Linked DNA regions of Homo sapiens: region 2 is linked to region 1. Evidence: fine-mapped expression QTL. A gene starts in region 1. The other region holds a variant in brackets. All regions are shown on one strand. Distances are from middle to middle.

Region 1 (5,000 bases):
AAATTGCAAGTTAACTCTTAAGGACTGTAGTCCCCCGAGTCCTCCACCAAGCCAAAGGGATGAGAATACATGAGGGGAAATGAGACTGAAAAGGTAGGCAAGAGGTCTACCACAAAGGGCCATGTATGCCATTCTAAGAAATACAGACATTATCCTTTAGGACACTGAAGGACTTTAAGAAAATCAGATTTGCATTTCAGAAAGATCATCCCCAGGGAGTAAAGGAGGAAGTCTAGATGTTTCTGGAAAGGAAGAAAACATTGAAGAATCAGACTACTGAAAAGATTATTACAGTAAGTTAGGTGGATAATGAGGGCCCCTTACCAAGGCACTCACAATGTAAACTCATTCATTCAAAAACTCGTATGTAGAATCTATTATTATTCAGAAAATAAAATCAATTATACTTGATGACCATTTGGAAGTTAGAAATGGAGAGTGAATCCAGGCTGAGGATGACTCCTTGGTTCTTGGCTTAAGGCAACAGCATGGTTATGATGAATGGAAATACAGTACGAACAAGAGAGAAGAATAGTTTGGAGGGAGGACCACATGCTAGTTTTGGGTATGTTTGTGGAAACAACCTAACAGACATCCTTGACTCCAGGTTCTCTTCCTTGCACACTGCTACTAAACTGAACTCAAGAAAAGCATTCTATTTAGGAATATATGCTGCCAACCTATTTCTTGGAACATTAATTCTAAACTGGCTTTCAAGATCCTCTGAGGCCTATTCGCTCCAGTTGTACAAGCTCATTTCTTACCATGACATTTCTAAATATTCACCTTCCTCTACCCTGGTCATCTTGCTGATCTTTTCAATGTTCCACCCACCATGCTCACCCCGGCACAAGCTACTTGGTTGGGAATCAAGCTGGTCAGAAAGACCTTGACTGCTAACCTTTTGAGTTTAAGCCTGAGGCTCTCACTTGAAACTCTGTATTAGGAATATTAACACACATCGCACAGCTCTCCCAATTAGCACTAACAGGCCTCTCTCAGGACCTCATTTTCTGCTGCTCTAAAACTAGCTTCCCCAAATGAATTGCATTTATGTCCTGGGTTGTCAGACTGGCCTGGGTTGTCCATAGAATTCTATTGTCACATATCTAAAGCTCACTTATTATTTAAAGAACTTCAGCCATCCCACCCACCCTACCCTCAAACCTATATTTACAGTACATATCACATATTTTAAATATTATACCCCAACATATTGTGTCCTGTGATCTCCCCACGTGGACAGACCTCTACATCCTTGGAGGGAATGGAGGTATTTGTTTCCTCATAGCATGGTCAGTTATAAGTCTAAAAACTGTTGTTAACCAAATTTTAAGGTTATTTCAGTCCTATGTTTTTAAACAATAAGTAAACTAACAGTTAATAGTGCTCCAAATCTTTATGGCTTTTCTGGTCAGTCTCTTGTTCCAAAATTCAAAGATTAGGATTACAATGTTTCCTTTGCTCTCATCCCTCACACAGTGCCAGGCCTTTATAAAACACTCTCCCATGGGGGAAAAAATGCAGCCAGGCTTCTGCTCTGGCTCAAGATGACTCCTTCTTAACATACTATTCGTAAAGTGTCCTCAATTCACCTGTTATCTCCTATGCCCTCCACTTTCTTGCAAATCTGTTCTCCAACCACACTGAATTTAACCAATGTTTACTGAGTGAATTTAATTAAGCAAGGCAAAACGTGTCTTGCTTTTCCATACTTTAAGTGCTCCCTGCTCTTCTCTTTGCCTGGAATGCCCTTCCTTTTTTCACCTGACAAATTCCTAATCATCTGTAGGACCCCAAAAAATGCCACCTCCTCTAGTGAAACTTCCGCAGTTTCCTTAGACAGAGGTGGTCATTCATTAGGGTCTTCCACATCCTGATGAATTATTTGCTGACACACTCTCCTTGCTACATCCTTAGCTTTTTAGAATCAGGACTGTTTCATTCTTACATTCCCAGCACAGTGTCTGACACTCAATGAGTCCCAATAAACCAATGTCATTCATCCAAAACACACCTTTTAAGGAATGTATAATACACCCTCTTAAGAACTGTAGTCCCCTGAGTCCTCCAGCAAGACGTGTAAAGGGAATTGCCTCCGGAACACTTCTGGAATCGCAGGAAGCCTGTATTCAAGTCAAAGCTCTTACAAGTGCTATTATTGGGAACCGCTGATCAGAACGCGCTTCTCAGGACCACGTTCAGCTCATATATAAAAGCCATCGACGTGCTGCTTTGGATGAAAATCGTTTTCTCTAGATTCTCTGGGGCTACGGCTAGTCACGCTAAATATCACTTATCCCTAATAGCGCTCATATCCCTGGAGAGATTTTTAAATCAATTGCCTAACAGACCTCACTACGTACAACTTTGAACAAGTCTGTGGGGACCACAAAAGCACAGATGACAGGGTTCTTAAGGTTAACAAGGCCTCGGTCCCACACTAAGCTTTTAAAACTCGGGAGGCAGCAGTTGCAAAAGCAAGCCTCAGGCTGCTCACCTTCTAGGATGGACACGACGATGAGCAATTGGTCGGATTTGGAGACCATGGTTGCGGTGAGCGGTCCGGGGGCGAAGGCGGCTGGGGGGAAGTGAGGTCCAGTTGAGTCGCGGGTAATCCGGGACCCCCGGCGGGACCCCCACTGCCCGCCCCCGGTCCCTGATGCCCGGACCCCGCTCCGCAGCCAGGTCCCACCGCCGTCTGCTGCAGCGCGCCCGGCTCCTCTGCCTCGGGCCGCCAGCCCAGATCCTAACTGTGCCCCGACTCAAGGAAAAAGCCACGCTGCAGCCCTGCCAGTCTGCAAGCAGAGACAAGCCCGCCACCCGAGGACCTTTTGCCGCCTGCGTAGCCGCTTTTCAAACGCCCGGGCGGCCGCAGCGGCCGCCGCCGCGCCCAGCTTCCGCCTAGCAACCAGGCCCGCAGGCCCAGTGCCCAGGGGAGGTTGGAGGACAACGGGTGATAGAGACAGAGCAGTCAAGGCTAGAACGCCCGTCAGCGAGCTTCGCCTCCCGCCCTTTTACGCTCTGTTCCAGAGCCCTAAGGAGGACGCCTTCATTACCTCACAGCGCCCTCTGCTAGCCGGACGAGGAGAGGCGGGCGACTTGGTGTGGGACCAGCTGCGCAAGCGCACTACTGCTGTAAACGCTTCCTGAAGCTGCGTAGCCTTTAAGGAGCGTGAGTGTAGCGTATTACCTGCTTTATGCTTCAGCCACAACCTGAGAGTTATATTAGTGGGGATTAAAAAAACAAAAAAACCTAGCTTAGTTGACGTACCCAGTGTCAACACTGCTTAAAAAATTAAATCACAAAAAAATAATGACTTAAATCTAAACTCTAAAGTCCCTAAATCGTGCTCACGCGGCACCTCAAATTTCCGACCTTTGAAAACAAGTAGCTTCAATACGGTAATTACTGTACTTGTTAAAGCTGACGTAAACTCCCCGAGAATTTCCTGTCCCTTAGAAATTACCCCTAAAACAAAAACACTGTCACGTGGGCAATGAAATATAAAGGTTCTTCCACCCCCGATGACAAAGTTATTAGCAAACTCAAAACCAAAAATAAACAAGGCATTGAGGTGCTGTCTGCCGACCCTTTCCCCTTAACGTCTCCCAAATTCAGATTTAAGAAACGGTTCAAGACTTGTAAAGGGAACGGCCTCCTAAACACTACTCAAATTGCAAGAAGCATGTATTCAAGTCAAAGGCAAAGTTCTTTTGGAGGTTATCTAGCTTGAAACTTAAATAACCGAATTGGTTGGAGCGATCGTGGACACTATTAAGTTTGGGAAAAATTCTGCTTCGGAAAACAAAAGTAAATCATAATAAAATAAAGCTGCAGAGATAGCACTAGGTAGTGGACATAAGTGCGGCTTCTCCTATTACTTTCTGGTTTTGTAAATTGAGAAGTTGTTTTGAGAGCAAATATAATATCTCGCTGTTTTCTTTTTCTTCTATTGCTTCCTTGTTTTGGAAATTTAGAAGTTATTTTGAGAGCAAATAATATAATATCACTATTGTTTTCTTCTTCCTCTTCTTTATTCTTCCTTCTTTGCTTTCTGCCCAAAAGAAAAGGAGGAATATGTAGAGATTGGACTAATTACTTCTAAGGCCCTTTCAGGTCCTATCACAGGCATTCTTAAAATGAAGCACTATTCAATGTAAAATCAAAGTAATGATCTACTTTGGATTCATCATTGAACAATGCATTATTTTTGTGGAAGATGTCAAACATACTTTAAAGAAAGCAGAATGATATAATGAACCCCCAGTTACCCAGACCCCAGCTTCAACGATTATCAACTTAAGACCAATCATCTTCATCTGTTGTGTTATTTTTAAAGAAATCCCCAACATCACATCAATTCATCTTTTTGGATACGTACTTCTAAAAGATGAAGACTTTTTGGCCAGGTGTGGTAGTGGCTCACATCTGTAATCCCAGCACTTTGGGAGGCTGAGGTGGGCGGATCACTTGAGTCAGGAGTTCGAGACCAACCTGGCCAACATAGCAGAACTCCGTCTCTACTAAAAATACAAAAATTAGCCAGACGTGGTAGCGCAAGCCAGAAATCCCAGCTACTTGGGAGGCTGAAGCACGAGAAGGCTGAGGCACGAGAATCGCTTGAAATCATGAGGCAGAGGTTGCAGTGAGCCGGTATCATGCCACAGCGCTCCAGCCTGGGCCACAGAGAAAGACTCAGTCTCAAAAAAAAAAAAAAAAAAAAAGATAACGACTTCTTAAAGAATCTTAAAATATTAAGTATTTAACCACAATCCCATTATTACACTTAATAATTAACAAAAATTTCTTAATCCCATTAAATATATACTGTTCAAATTTCTCTGATTGTCTAATAATTTGTTTGCAGTCGGTTTTTTCAAATCAGGATCCAAACAAGTTCCAAAATACAATGGTTGGTATGTCTCTTGTCTTTTTTAATGTATATGGTTAGGCTTTGTGCCCCCACCAAAATCTCATTTTGAATTGTAATCCCCAC
Region 2 (5,000 bases), 79 kb before region 1:
GTCAGTAAATTATTTATCTAAAAATTAATCTTCCTAAACAGATTTCCACCCCCCTTCAATTTGAAAGCTAAACTTCTGAGGAGTCTCCACTTCAGCAACTTCATATCTGAAGAGCCTACATCTGTAAAAACATTTCAAATGAAAACACTAAGACAACCCCCAGAGAAGCAAATAAAATGGGAATTAAGTATATAGCAGCCTTTCTACGGTTACATTCCTAACAACAGCAGATTCTAATTTGATGCCAAACAGAGGTTATGTAACAAAATCAGTGAGCAATCTAGTTCTTTTGGTTTCAGTAGAACATTTAGGTGCTTCAGTAATTCTGTCTCTGTTTCCCCATTTATGCCAATATGGATGGATTGCGTGTCTCCGAGACCTAGAAGCAGAGGGCGCATTAGCTAGGAAGAAGCATGATTGTACACTAGAACAAGTGGCAGAAAAAGTGTACGACGAAACGTCTAGGCTCCAAGGGATATGCTGTTAATACAATTGCCAAAACACAAACGTCAAAGATGGATTTAAATTTTCAAGTCATAATTTAAAATTACTCAGCCAGACTTTAACACTCTTACACAAACCACTTTATTCGTTAATAAGACCATGAACCAACAGTAAGAGAACCTACCTCCAAAAAAAGATACTAAGCCTACTTTAGGGTACTAGTAATATGTGTTGGGTTTTTTTTTTTTTTTTAATTCTCTCTCCAATTTACATCCATGGTCTGGACTATCTGTTAAATTTTAAAAACCATTTTTTTTTCTAAATTGTCATTAAGAATAACAAGACATAATCTTATAAAACATGAAGGCATTACAATTCTAAGTTTCAAGGAGTCTCCAATTTATCTTTAGAACTCAGGATATAAATGTAGCCATTAGTTTTCACTCATTTCAGATTTTGGTAAAGGTGCTATAAGCATTTAATGAAGCATTTTTGATCCATTTCCACAATCAAGAAATGACAAGATGTTATCTTCAGAAATGACTTGACAAGTGACTCTTGTGCAGAAAACTTTCAGCATAAGAACACTGGGTAGGCAGATTTGAGGCACAGTTTGAAGCAAACTTTTAAATTGTGGTAAAATATACAGAACATAAAATGCACCATCTTAATTATTTTTAAGTGTACTATTCAGTGGAATTATTCACAATGCTGTGCAACTATTTCCATTATCCATATCCAGAGCTTTTTCACATCCCAAACAGAAACTCTGGACCTATTGAACAGTAATTCCCCCTTCCTCTTTTCCCCTAGTTCCTTCCAGCCCCTGGAAACCGCTAGTCTACTTTCTGCATCTATGAATTTAAAGCAAACTTTTATTATTATTTTTTTTAAGCAAAAAACAATCCAACAAACAGAACTCCTCCACTTCTATAGGGCATGGGCAGTCAGACAACAAGTTCATAAACCTGTCAGTGAGGCCATGGAGGCCTACTTTCCCCTGCATTTCAGCCGTCAAATTTTTTACATCTATTTTGACAGGTAGACCATACACAATCTTTTCATTTCTTTATGAATTTAGCGAATATTATCTGAGTGCCTACTTATGGCCGGTACTCTTTTAATTCTGGAAGAAACTAAGATAGACCTGGTCGCTGCCCTCGCAGCCCTCACATTCTGGTTAACACTGCTTCACTTTATCTCCAAACTCTGTAAAGCATGGAAGAGTGTGCAATTTTGATGAGATACCAATGATATGACACAAGCCTTGTGTCAATAACCCATTTTCAGCATCAGAATTGCTAGAACATTATCTACTTTTCACTATTATTTTTGGTCAGTGCTTTACAGGTGATAGATACAAGAAGAGTTGAACTCTATTCCCAATGGATGATGAATATTATGATGAATATTATGCCCTTATGTTGGCCTTCTGGATCTCTGTATCATTTAATTCAATATCTGACAAAACATATAGAAACTAGTGATAGAAAAAGATATGCTTTAGGTTTTCTAATATTTTCTATTTTAAATATCCAATTTGGGATTCCATTTATATGAAATGCCCAGAATAGGCAAATCCAAAGGGACCAAAAGATTAGTAGTTAGGGGCTGGGATAGAAGAGAATGAGGAGTGACTGCTAATGGGTACAGGAGTTTCTTTTTGGGGTGATAAAAATGTCTTAAATAGTGGTGGTGGTTGTACAGCCTTGTGACTGTATCAAACACTGAATTTTATACTTTAAAATGGTGATTTTACGTTGTGTGAATTATATCAATTATTTTAATAAAAAATTTAGGTATTCAATAAAGCTAGACACAATGGTATTAGTGAGAACACATCTTTTAAGTCCATATATAGCTACCAGAGGGCCCTTCCTATGGACTGTAAAAAACAGGTCGGTCCATTCTGAAGTGGCTGCAAACAAGCAGTATATACTGGGACAATCTGTGAATTCAGATTCAGGCTGGGCAGCATCTGGACAGGAAGTAGAGGAGAAAATCATCTGGTCAGACAAGACTGTCTCCCCATCAGCAGAGGCCCTAATACGTCCTTAAATCACACTCAAACCCCCACATCTGCTTGAAGCAACAGGAATTCGGGTCCAGATAGAAATTACTAGGATTTATCTGCAAGGGAACTCCTATGTTTATACAGACATGGTATTAGATATACCTGGTAGATTACACACCCCTCCTATGCAGTACATGCCC[G/A]CATTAAACATGGAAACTAGACTTTCTCCATGAAAAACCACAGAAATTTTAAAGGTAAATCTGATTTTACCCTAAAATATTTGATATTTTCCTGTTACTAGGAAACTTATTCACCCACCCATGCCTGCACCCACTCACTGATTTATCTACTGTGGTCATACTCATTAACTCCTAGGCAAAATCAGTGTAAAAACATTCGATGCCACTTACAAATGGAATGGGTATTGCTAAAAGGACTACAAAACAGTGTTAATATTTCAGACTCCCCTAGTTGTAAGACAAAAAATAGTATGTAAACACTTGAGAAAAAAAGACAGTCATTTGAAATAGGAAAACCCGAACACTATGCCCACTCTGTTTAGAAACAGAAGTAACAGGCTGCTCAAGAACTCAGAGATGCACACAATTATGATTTTATTTGTTAAGTTACAATAGCCAAAAGAGCTTTACAAAAGGCAAAATAAACTACACATCCATTTTAGAAAAGTCCTTTTTATTTCTTTAAATCAGAGGCCCCCTCTAGCGTTTGAAAGCAGTCACAGGCAACACACAATGCAATTGAAAGTAAACAGTCACAGCATTTTACCGCAGACCTTCCAAAACATAAGGCTTGCTTCTGTTCCATTCAAGTGGCACAAAAATCAATGAGAGAAAAATAGCTAACCATAATTAATATTGCAAATTCCTGCTATGATTCAGATTCATTATCCTCTCATTCAGTAATTTCTTTATTATTTACTGCTGGGTTATTTTTTACTAGATTAATACTCTGTTAATAAGGAAAAAATATATAATAAATATAGGGACTTTAATTTCCCTAATAAGAAATATACCTCATTTGAAATGACCGAAAATTAATGTTACCATATATCCTACTCTGCTTTGATGGAAGTTATTGGTAACTTCCTAAAGTATATACTTAATTTTAACTTTATTATATTTGGAAATCAGAACTTTTTAAAGTACATATATTTTGAAATTCAACCTAATCTGTGACTTTGCTAAAACTTTTTCAGTACTCAGTAAAAGGAGGTGGGAAACGTTGCTTTGAGGACAAATGTTGGCTCTGAAGAATATGATATAAAGGAACTCTTAAGAGTTTTTATACAGACAGGGCACTGCATAAATCCAATGAGTGAATCTCGTGCGCTTTTGAAAACGATTGATTGAAATTAGCGGGAGTAAAAAATAGTTGATTTTCACTCTATTTTTTCAGCTAATGTCTTTATGTGTCTGTTTCCATGTTCTATTACAGAGGGTTTAAGCTGACAGCTAGTATTACTATAACTGGAAAATAAAAAGAAATCTCTAATTTTAACAAAAGAAAACAATGCAAACTTGAGGAAGAAACCAACAGAGAAAACTATATTAAGCTAATACTTCATGTTCTTAAAAGTTATAAATACACTGAAAATTTGAAAATTCAATAGCTCTTGAAACAAATTTAATCTGTATTAACTTTATTTAAATAAATGACCAATCTGTCACCCAACATGTCATGTGGCTTCTCTGCACTGATCTTGCTTTGTTTTCAAACTTGTCACTTGCAAATATTATAAGAAAAAAAGGTCATCTAAAATGAGTTAAACTGGTTACAATTGGTCTCAACTTTTAAGAATTTACATTCAAATGGAATAGGACGCAGCGTTTTTAAAGTGCAAGATATACTCTTTTGGCTCAACATGAAACATTATAGAACTGGAAATTACCGCAGTCATTTCTCCTACAACAAACTTAGTTAAAAGCTGTTTTGAAAGTTAGTTAGCCATCAGATTATAAACTATGAAAAACACTGAAAAGTCATTTAAAATGAGTATATAAATGCAAATTACAAATAAAACCAGTGTGGGAGAGGTAGCATAAAGTAAATAAGATCAAATAAATACTATACAATAACATACAAAATTTTGCTTATAAAAAATTGAAAATACCATTTTAAAACATCCATTTTCCTCACTTTTGAGGTTTTTACAAAGAAATTAAAATTTAGACTTAGAGTCTCTATAAAGCTTTTCCAAATGTTATTAATTACTGGCATTGCTTTTTGCCAAAATCTCTCTGATCTGTCGGTCGAGTTCACTTATTATTCGATCCTCGTGATTATACACACCCGTTCTCATCAAAGTATCCCTTTCTTCTATCAGGCGAGTCAAATAATCATCCAAACCTTCTTCCAATACACTGCCATGGGGGCCATCCTTTTTTCCACTTGCAATCTCTGTGGAATCCTGGTATTGTTTTTGCTCTTGTTGCCTTAACCTGAGAAGTCAAGAACAAATGCCACTGTAGCAACTGTGTTGGTTTTCTTAATGTCACTATTTAAAAACAAAATGATTCAATGG

The links. PIP is the estimated chance that this variant, and not a neighbour inherited with it, causes the effect.
Region 2: its variant is fine-mapped to the expression of CEP120 in whole blood (INTERVAL, PIP 0.99).

What each region holds. Positions count from the first base shown.
Region 1 is chr5:123,420,450-123,425,449 of GRCh38, forward strand. It overlaps CEP120 (centrosomal protein 120), which reads right to left and starts at 2,954. Exons shown (of 20, transcript NM_001375405.1): 1 at 2,501-2,954. The coding sequence starts at 2,549. RefSeq lists an enhancer at 2,220-3,165 and a silencer at 2,495-2,654.
Region 2 is chr5:123,341,837-123,346,836 of GRCh38, forward strand. CEP120 (centrosomal protein 120) reads right to left here. Exons shown (of 20, transcript NM_001375405.1): 20 at 3,056-4,917. The coding sequence ends at 4,683. Among named protein-coding and RNA genes, the nearest start is that of CEP120, 79 kb to the right of the region's middle. The variant G/A (reference allele first, on the strand shown) is at 2,659.